Regions from separate parts of the Homo sapiens genome. Here region 1 is linked to region 2. The links come from fine-mapping of genetic effects on gene expression. A gene starts in region 2. The other region holds a variant in brackets. All regions are shown on one strand. Distances are between the middles of the regions.

Evidence for each region. PIP is the estimated chance that this variant, and not a neighbour inherited with it, causes the effect.
Region 1: its variant is the best candidate, but not a certain one, in a credible set for the expression of ARMH4 in breast (GTEx, PIP 0.51).

What each region holds. Positions count from the first base shown.
Region 1 is chr14:58,094,996-58,100,378 of GRCh38, forward strand. It overlaps ARMH4 (armadillo like helical domain containing 4), which reads right to left. Exons shown (of 8, transcript NM_001001872.4): 5 at 1,729-1,986. Among named protein-coding and RNA genes, the nearest start is that of ARMH4, 55 kb to the right of the region's middle. The variant T/C (reference allele first, on the strand shown) is at 3,158.
Region 2 is chr14:58,149,288-58,154,670 of GRCh38, forward strand. It overlaps ARMH4 (armadillo like helical domain containing 4), which reads right to left and starts at 2,926. Exons shown (of 8, transcript NM_001001872.4): 1 at 2,788-2,926. RefSeq lists silencers at 2,461-2,650, 2,751-2,970, 2,864-3,158, 3,051-3,120.

The DNA of each region.
Region 1 (5,383 bases), 54 kb before region 2:
TGCATTGAGGAGCATGATAATACCACAGCCCAAATGATCATTTTAGCCTTGATTCAGAGCCTCCTTATAGTTTTCTAAGACCCTCTAATTACTTATAATTACTCAAAGATGGTAAGTCCACTTCATAAGTGGTGAGACTTCATTTCTTTGATCACAATCCAGGGTAGATGCCATATGATGTTCCTAATTCTGTGCTAAGGCAACCCTGTCTCCCTCGCTCCTCTCTCCGGTAAAGTACTAGAGCATCCGAATATCATCCCATCCATACTGAAAGGCTGTTTAACTGTACATGATACCTCCATAGTATAAAGCTGTGCACAACCCGAGGAGTCACTTTACGTGTAGATTTGTGTCTGTTTTTAACCTGTTCGGTATAAATTATCTTTGTATTTTGTATCTTATTTCATTCATTTCAAACCTGTTCATGTAGAACAGAAGCATTTCAGACTAAATATTCATTCACTTGTTCACAGACCAGAGATAATCTTATTTTGTGTTTGTTTTATAGTATTTTGATATTATAATGTTTTGATACCCTTATAAGTTTTTACCAGTTTCATGTGACATGTTTTTAAAGTAATCATTGCCCAATGCATGCTGAATTTGGCCAGAAAGTAATTCAAGAAATCTTGTCTGTCCACTGGAAGCCCATCCCTTACTATCTTCTCTCCTTCCTATAGCATATTACACAGGAAATCCCAGCTACATGTCAACTACAACCTGTATGCCAATCTATAGAGTGCAACTCCCAGAATTACATCCAGAGCAAAGGCCCAGACCAACTTACAAGTTTTCAATGACATATCCCCAAAACTAGTATTTGTACCAGTTTTTCTGACTCTTAACCCTAACATCTGCCACACTGAAGGAATCAATGGGCCTAGCTGTTAAAGACTAGGAGCATTTTAGAGAAGAGTTTCCTTGGAGAAGAGATTAATTCACCTCAGGTCAAGGGAATAGGGCCTCAAGGAGTCACTGAGAGCTTAATAGCGTCTCCCCTGACAAGAGGAGAGGGACAGACTGGGGAGCTTCCCTGTCGATGTGGAAGGAAGTGCTGAGCTGAGGAGCGGCCTGCATCCTCCAAGTCTCTCACCACAAGCACGGGCCATGAATAAGAGAGAGTGAGCATGGAGTGGTCTGGCCACCCTAGCTGCTGAAATGAAATCGTGTTTGACAAGGTAATGCAGCCACAAGTCTGAACAGAAAAATCATGGGACTGCCCAACTGCTCACCCACAAGCAGGGGAAGAACTTCCCCTAGGTAATAGATTCCCAAAGGACAGAGCGGAACAAAAAATGCATTTGTTCTTCGACTCTGTCCCATGGTGCTGCTTGTCCAACATCCTGGTTACACGTATCTCCTCCCTGTGCGGATGTCCTCCTAAAGCCTACAACTGTCTCCCAACTGGGAAGGAAAAACTGAATTTCTTCCAAACATCAGGCAACTGTACTCATAATAGGCAGCTGGAGACTGTTTGGAGCCTGGCTACTTAAGGGCATAAATATAAACTCATCGAAGAAATAAGTGATCATTTTTAATTTTTAATTATCAGTTATTTCTTCGGTGAGTTTATACTTATATTCTTAACCACCCATAAATGTAGAAACCACCCATAAACAAAGAAAATCCATTTTTCTTTACAATAGATGGCAATGAAAGAAGGCTGTCATCTGAGAAATATAAAAGGAGGGGAGAAGGGAGGAAAAGGGAAATACACATGACTCTTACCCAGGCCTTGATTCTGCTGTTCCCACTCGAGGGCATCTGGCACCTGGTAGGTAGCTCCCTCCAACAGGTCCATGTTTCCCTCCTCTAAGCCTGGTTCCTGGGATGTGATACCAGGGAGGGTAAAACCTGGCAGCTCAGTGTCACCATCCAAGCCCTCATCCAGCGAGTCTGCATCTTTATCTTCCTCATCTTCTTCCTCATCTTCCTCTTCTTCATCTTCATCTTCTTCATCCTCTTCATCCTCATCTTCTTGTCCCTCTAGGCAAAAAGAAATCAAAGGGAAGCATAAACATATAATGAGTTTATGCTGAAACAAATGAATCCTTGGAAATGATCCAAACACTACAAAATAATTGTTTGGCCTTTTGAAACACATCTTTATAGCCAAAGTCAGACAATGTGAACTTTGCAGGATTATACACCCACCATATGTCCTAGAGTTTAAACTTTCAAAACCATAGTTATGTCAGATAAGTATCAGGTATTATGTTTACTGGGAGTCAAAGTTCAAGTAATATGATTTGTTATTAAAGTTATTTATATTTACAAGGGTAGTAAACATCCCCTTGCTGTTTTCTGGAGATCATTAAAAGTTTATCAGTTAGCACACTGTGAAATACTAACAGAACTTAAAAGAAGCTGTTCCCATCCCTTTATAGCTCATAATGTTAAAGGAGACAATTCATTATTTTGGCACAGCTTTTTCTATTCATCCACATCAGTGAGTAGAACTCACAAAAATGGTAAGTGAGGAGCACATAAATTCACTCTTGGATCTTGTTCTCTCTAAGGAAGAGTAATCCAAGAAACTGGAAATAATTGCATCAACATTCTCAATCCAACTCTAAAGGAATTGGGAAGTGGGATATTCACCAGGAGTGGTCAGAAAGGCAGCACATTAAAAATTACCATTATCTTCATTGTAAGAGTTAACATTCACAATTCGTCGTTTTCTTGATTTTTTTTTTTTTATTTTTTATTTATTTATTTATTTATTTTTGAGACGGAGTCTTGCTCTGTCACCCAGGCTGGAGTGCAGTGGCGTGATCATGGTTCACCACAGTCTCAGACTCCTGGACTCAAGCCATCCTCCTCCCTCGGCCTCCCACAATGCTAGTATTATAGGCGTGAGCCATGGCACTTCACCACAAGCTGTCATTTTCAATGCTCCAAGTGGAGTGGGTTTAAGGAACATATGATTCCCAATTTCATTTTGTTTCACCAATGTTAATTTCCTAGTAATACTTCAAGGCCCCATCCTCACCATGGATGCACCTCTGAAGCCCCTGGTAAGTGCCCACAAAGTTCACAGAAGGCCTTCCCTTTGCTCTCTCCCCTTGACTCTCGGCACAGCAGTTACTGCAACAGGTAATTCTCCTCCTATGGTGGAGAAAAGAAGGGAAGAAGAAGAACTGGAGCCACCCAAGAA[T/C]TGTGAGACTCTCCTTTTCTGCTTCTACACAACTTTCTCCACCCATACTACCTTTCCTCTATCATTCAGAGGCTTTTTAACTTTTAAAAAAAATCACCTTTAATCTTTTTTTATTCTTATATGTCCTTTAACTTTGTAGGATTAATGTCTGTCACTATTCTAAAAATTCAACAAATATGTATCAACCCCCTAACGGGTGCCGTTGCAGACACTAGGGATAAAAGCAATAACGTCTCTGCCTTCGTGGAGCCCATGTGCCACCCAGGGAGACTCACAGCAAACAAACAGATACACCAATAGGCAGGTGACTCTACACTCTCATTAAAACTGGCAAGAAGATAGAAAACGCCAGGCACTGCTATTTTAGAAAGGGTGATTAAAGAAAGCTTTTCTGACAAGGTAAAGTTTGAACAGAGGCCACACCAAAATAATGCATTCTTTTGTTTAATTTAAGTCAACATCTACAGGAAGAGCATTCCCAGTGGAGGAAATGGCAAGGACCTAATCCTTGAGGCAGGTGTGGCCTCGCTGTGTTCAAACAATGGCAAAGAAGCCTGGGCTGGGAGGCACAGGGCAAATACAGGAAATGAGGTAGGAAGAAGTAGGCAGGGGCCAGATCTGACTTTTTTTTTTTTTAAGTCTTTTATTTATTTCAATAGGTTTTTGGGGAACAGGTAGTACTGACTTATATTTTTAAAGAATGACTCTAGCAGCAGGGTGGAGAACAGGCTATATCAAAGCAAGAGATGAAAAAAGAAGGCTGACAAGGAGTCCACTTAAAAACCAGGAATAGATTATGGTGCTTTGGACTAGGGTACAATCTGGAAAGAGGAGAGAGGTAGTCATATCGGGGATGTAATTTCAAGGTAGAACCCTGCTGATAAGTACAATGTGAGATGCAGGAGGAAGATCCCACATGACTGAAAACGGGATCTAAAAGATAAGGAGTCAAAACAAGAATTTGCATTTGAGATACAGTAACTGTGTGATGGCCTATGGCATCCAAGGGAATGTTGGAAGTCTAGGGAAGTTTCAAAGCTAGAGATAAATTTTGGGAATTGTCAATTTATTAATAATATTCAAAGCCTTGAGACTGGCTGAGATTATCAAGAAGGTGAATATAGACAGAAAGGGAAATGGTCCAGACCACATTCCCGGGCAAAGCCACCACTTAGAGGGTGACCAGCAGAGGAAGATCCACACAGGAAACAGGAGTAACCACCAGGGTGGGAGAAAATCCAAGAAGTGTGTGGTGTCAGGGAAGGCAAATGAAGAAAGCGTCTCCAAGGGCCCGAGTAAGAGACTGAGGGTGTCCCTCTGGCTTGGACATTGGGAGGGCACGGGGGACCTTGACAAAAGTTGTTTTGGAGGAATGATATAGACAAAGGCCAGGTTGGAGTGGTTCAAAAAAAGATTAGAAAAGAAGACACAACAAACAAACAAAAAATTCTTACCAGAAATTTGGCTAAAAGGAGAACAGAGAAAATAGGGGGCAGGTGGAGAGAGACACAGGGTCAAGGGTAGGGTCTTAAAATAGAATATAGAAAATAGAACCTGCTTGTAAGTTAATGGGTCAGATCTCATCGAAAGGGGCAATCAATGAGGCAGGAAAGACAGAAGCAGCTGCGGGAGAATATCCTGGGAGACATGGTATTATACAGTGGCTGCATGCATAGACTCTGAAGCCACACAAATTTATTACGGCTGTGTGATTTTTGCACACGTTGCTGAATTTTGCTGTGCCTCAACCTCCTCGTCTGTAAAACTGATATTATTCCTACCTCACAAGGCTGTTGTAAGGATTTCATTAGTTAATTTATAAGGTACTTAAAACTAAGCCTGGTGCATACTGGACAGGTTGGCTTCTTCATAATGACTAAAAGAAGACAAGGTCCAGTGCACAGGCTGGTTTGGATACATCCTCCCCTGAAACGGTAGGAAAAAGGGAAGGCAGAGAAACAGGCATGGTGCAGGAAGGTGGGCAGATTTGGTGGGTAGGGGATCTTTATATTTCTTTTATTCTCGGTCAAATAAAAAAACTGGAAAGGAAAAGAGAAATGTTGGTGGTTTGAGGTGAGAGGAAAAAGCGTGAAATAGTCGTCTTGGAGAGTAGGCGAGTACATTCTCAGAGAAATGGGGCAGGACTGCCAGGCAGCCCTCTAGGCCCACTTCAGATGTGACATCATATATCTAAAGTGAGACCTGTTAAGATGGTTGTGAGTTTTT
Region 2 (5,383 bases):
ATTGGCTTTAGGATCTAGGCTGCAGCTATACTTCACCATAAATTAAATAGCTGAATGACAAACAATCCTTTCAGCAGCATGTTCCATCACAATGGAAGGAGGGAGAAGGAGTAAGTAACCACAAAGAAAAGCATGGTCCCCCAGGAGGAAAGCAGCCCCAGAGCTGGCAGGGAAGAGGGTAAGTAGGCTGGGGTCAAAATAGCTAAATTACTGGAAACTAAATACCAGTAAAAAGTACTTTACCATCCCTGAAGACCACACCTAAGTTCTACATACTGAGCCCAGGAGCTTCAGTCTCTACAAATTAGTGATGTAGACAAATGAAGATATCCGTGCTTATCACCCCTAGCATATCATCTCATCCCTGGTAAAAGGAGATGGACTTGAAGATTTAAAAACAGGCTTCTTCGAGTTCCAGTTCTACCTTAGGCAAATCACTGAAACTCAAGTTTTCTTGTTGCAAAGTAGAAATAATAATGCTGGTTATATTTTTTCAAAGGGTGGAGAACACACACAAAAGTGATAATAGACATAAAAGCAGTTTGAAACAAAAGTAAATTATCATGCAATAGAAGACATACTAGCATGCTACTGACATGCATTCCTGTCAAATACAGAAATGTGAGCAATTTGGAGCATCTGTAACATCAGCCACAAATGGAGTAGCATTTTTTTCCCCAAGGTACTTTCATGGAGCTTCTCCTTTCAGCTTTATCATGTAGACAATGTGACCTGAGAGGGTTCTGCTGTCTGCAGAATCCTATCCTGATGAATCTTGATCAACAAACTCTTCTCCATCCATCAGACAGTTTATTTCAGTGACCCAATTGGACATATCATTTCTGGTTTTTGTGGTACACAAATGTAGCCATTTGCTTGGCTAGATCTCTAAGTAGCTGACATTTAAAGGGAAGCTGAAACTAGCTTCAGATACTTCTCTTATAATCACCAAGTAAACACAATATGGAAAAATAAGATTGACCTCACATCTTGCTTAGGGAATGAGTTTTCATTTTACAAAAATTAAAAGCAGTTTCCCTCTGCATAGACAGCTTCCCTATGTGAGAAGTTTTTTAAGTTCAATTAACAAAAATACAATTCCATACACCACTTTTCAGACAAACATCTACAGAATAAAGGGCAAAGGACACCTTTAGGTGGGGAGTGGACATTTTCCACAGCAGATAAACCCGTTTTCCTCATTTTGATTCTACACTTATATTTAGCATCGAACCATTTCCGTAATACCAAATTATAATATTGTAAAGGTCTGGCAGGAAACTCCGGAATATGTAGTAAGAAGCCTCCCATGAAAACAAAGACAAATTCACATCTCTCTAATTGGCTCCGTTGCTGTAGCTACCTTAGACTTGGTGAGCCTTGGGAGTTTCTATGAATAAACTCAACTAATATCAAATCTGTCTGCTGCACAAGTGCTCGGTTCATTATTGTGACAAATACAAAAAAAAAACCACTTTATTCATAAGAGCAAGTCAGAGTACCTTTAAACCTCTGTGTGTAAAAGAAGCAATGTTCTGATACTGTGAAACCTTAGCCGGTTGTGTGTTTCAATAGATGCTACTGTGGGGTTCTACTGGCATACGTGCCGAAGTCAGTCAATGACTGTAGATGCTTGGCTAAAAGGAGACTCCCTGGAGCCCAACAGCATCACTTGTGATCAAGGAAATACACCAAAATAAAGAGAAGGCATGTGAATTCTGACCACTCAAGAATTTTTGCCCTTTGGAGAAGAGATCCTTCAGAACCCTAGGGATGGTTTTGTGAACCACTCCCCACTCCCCCTCAAGTTTCAAACTAAAACTTCCAAAGAAAGAAGGCAGACACTTTAAAGCAGCCATCTCTCCTCTCTTCCACATCAGTTCTGCACTGAAATTGGATGCCAAGTGCTAGGCGGATCCTCGGGATCATCTCATCTTTGAGAACCCAAACTCTTAAGGGTCCTGTTTTGTTCACTCCTGCTTGCCTCCTCGCCAGCCAAGGTTCTACATGTTTGGAATCTACACAAGTCAGATTCTGTCAGTGACCACGAGGCACATGAGACATTTGGGCACCTCCGGCAGCACCTCCCAACTATTCCGGAGTCTCAAGCAGAGCCTCGCCTCCCCCAGGTCTAACCCGCAGGCCCTCTTTCTAATTAAGTGACCTTTCCAAGGAGCGTCCTCCAGCCGCGTCCTGGGGGACGAGTCAGGGGCTGAGCAAGGAGGCTCGACATCTCTGCGCTAAACACTCAACTGTTTGTTTTCTGCAAAGTGGCAGGACATATTTCGGTGGTGACCGCAGCAACGATTCGCTCCTCGATTGTTAGGCTCTGAGTGGCATTGGGGACACTGCGATCGACGGTTTGAAAGGAGTAAACCGTTGTTTTCGGGAACTTCTCTCTCACTGCTGTGGGATTGCGAGCGGAGGGAGAAAGAGAAAGAAAAGCCCACACAAAAGCAGCCAGCCCTGCAAGCTCCGCCAGCACAAAGGCCGGCTCGCTGGTGCGGAGCTGGGAGGCTGGGCTGGAGCTAGGAGTGCGGTGAGTCCTCCGAGGCCTGCGCGCCGCGCCCAGCGCGCCCAGAGCTGCCCCCGCGCACCCCACACCTGGGCACCGCGCTCCGGAGGAGGATCGGGGCGCACGCCTGGCGCACCCAGGGCTGCAACGCTCCCGGGACTGTTACGCTCGCGGAGCGACCCCACGCCACTGAGGCTCCGGTTCCGTCCCTGCCCCGGCGCCACGTCTGCAGCCGCGGCCGCCCAAGTGGCCGGAGCCGGGCCCGTCCTCACCTGTGCGCCTTCAGCTGAGCAGCGCGCGGAGGACAGAGGCAGCGGCGGCGCGGGCGCTCGGCATCCCAGCGGCGGGCCCTGCGGCGGCGGCGGCGGTAGCGGCGGCGACTCCCTCCGCTGTCTGGGACGCTAGGGGGAGGGCGCTTCGCTTTGTTGCTTATTCATAAGGCCGCGGCTACGGCCGGGGATTGGGCGGTGAGTAGGTGTGCCCGCCCTGGCTCTGCTGGCACTGACAGCCGACGCCGTCGCCCACGCCCCCCTGCGCCCACTTCCCCGCCTCCGCTCTCCCGCGGGGGCGGCTTCTGCTGGAGTCCCGGCACCTGGGACCCCTCGGAGATCCCGTGCTCCGCTTCCCCTCTTTAAGCGGGAGCTTCTGCGGCAGCTCGCCTCCCTATCTACGCGGAAGAGACCAGGGCACCGTTTACACGAGAAAAACCTCAATTTTGCTGTCTTTGGTTCAGGCAAGGAGCGCAAATCTGAGACTGCAGTGTTCCTTGTGGAAACTATGGACGGCTTGGCGGTGCCCTTAAGTAGGACCCTTAAAGTAACTCTACACAGAATGTCCCTTCTCAGTCCGTCGGAGAAGTTGCAAACTAGTGCTAGTCACAAGTAAGGTTTATTGAGCCCTTACTCCTGCCAGGCACAAGAGTAGATGCTTTGCCCATTACTTTACCTGCTTAATCTGCACGATAGAAGGGTAGATATTGTAGTTCTCATTTACCAGGGTAGGAGGTTAAGGCTAAGGGCTGTGTAACTTCTCCAAGGTCATCCGGCTCGCGTGGCCACCGGGAATTTGTGTCCTCCATTCTTGAGCCTCTCAAGGACTGTTTTCTTTTTCTGTTACTTCTAATGGTGTGGAAAGAGGTGTCGGAATCTAAAGGCCCGTTTTGGAACAACCTCCACAACGCAGCATTTTACATTTGCAGAGCACTCTTCACATTTGTCCCTTATTGTGCTTATTAGCTCCCTTCTTCATAATACCTTAGTCCCCTTTTGTAGTTAATTATAAACACCTTGAAGTCAGAGCAAAAGCTGGCTCACCTTTGACCCCCACACCTAACACAATGCACAGGTATGTACTGGTTTCTGTTTGTTTGTTTGTTTGTTTTTGAGACAGGATCTCACTCTTTCCCCCAGGCTGGAGTGCAGTGGCGCCATCATGGCTCACTGCAGCCTCGACCTCCTCCTGGGACCTCAAGCCATCACCCACCTCAGCCTCCTAAGTAGCTGGGACCACAGGCATGCGGCACCACGACTGGCTAATTTTTTATTATTATTATTATTATTATTATTATTATTATTATTATTATTATTGGTAAAGATGGGGTCTTCCTATCTTGCCCTGGCTAGTTTCAAACTCCTGGACTCAAGCGATCCTCCTGCCTCGGTCTACCGAAGTGTTTGAATTATAGACATGTGCCACGGTGCCCAGCAGGTATGCACTGTTACCCATTCCCCCTCCCTTTAGAAATTATTATCTATGTATAATCATGCATTGATTAATTAGGGGAATACATTCTAAGAAATGTATCCTTAGGCAATTTTGTTGTTATGCGAGCATAATAGTATACTTACACAAACCTAGATGGCATAGCCTACTACGTACCAAGGCTATATGGTATAGCCTATTGCTCCTAGGCTACAAGCCTGTACAGCATGTTACTGTACTCAGTACTGTAGGCAATTGTAACACAATGGTATTTCTATATCTAAACATTGAAACAATACAGTAAAAATACAGTATAAAAGATAAAAAATGGTGCATCTGTATAGAGCACTTACCATAAATGGAGCTTATAGGACTGGAAGTTGCTCTGGGTGAGTCAACGAATGATGAGTGAGAATATGAAGACCTAGGACATAACTGTACACTACTGTAATGTACGTAACCTTACACTACTGACATAACTGTATACTATTGTACATAACTACACTACTGTAGTTATGTAGGCTATAACTGTATGCTACACTACTACTGTAGTGTAAACAATGTACACTTAGGCTGTACTGTAGACATAAACATTTTTTCTTCAATAATAAATTAACCATAGCTTACCTGAATTTTTTACTTTATAAATTTTTTTTAACTTTTGACTCTTTTTTTCTTTGAGACAGGGTCTCACTCTGTCACCCAGGCTGGAGTCCAGTGGTACAATCACAGTTCACTGCAGCCTGGACCTCCTAACCTCAAGCAATCCTCCTGCCTCAGCCTCCCCAGTAGTTGGGACTACGGGCACATGCCACCACGGCTGGGTAACTTTTGACTCTTTTGTAATAACACAGCTTAAAACACAAACATATTGTACAGCTGTTCAAAAATATTTCATTTCTTTATTTCCTTATTCTATAAGCCTTTTTCTATTTAAAAAACAAAATTTTAAAAGGCCAGGTGGGTCATGTCTGTAATATCAGCACTTTGGTAGGCTGAGGCGGGTGGATCACCTGAGGTCAGGAGTTCGAGACCAACCTGGCCAACATTGCAAAACCCTGTCTCTACTAAAAATACAAAAATTAGCCAGACATGGTGGTGCGTGCCTGTAATCCCAGCTATTAGGGGGGCTGAGGCAGCAGGATCGCTTGAACCTGGGAGGCGGAG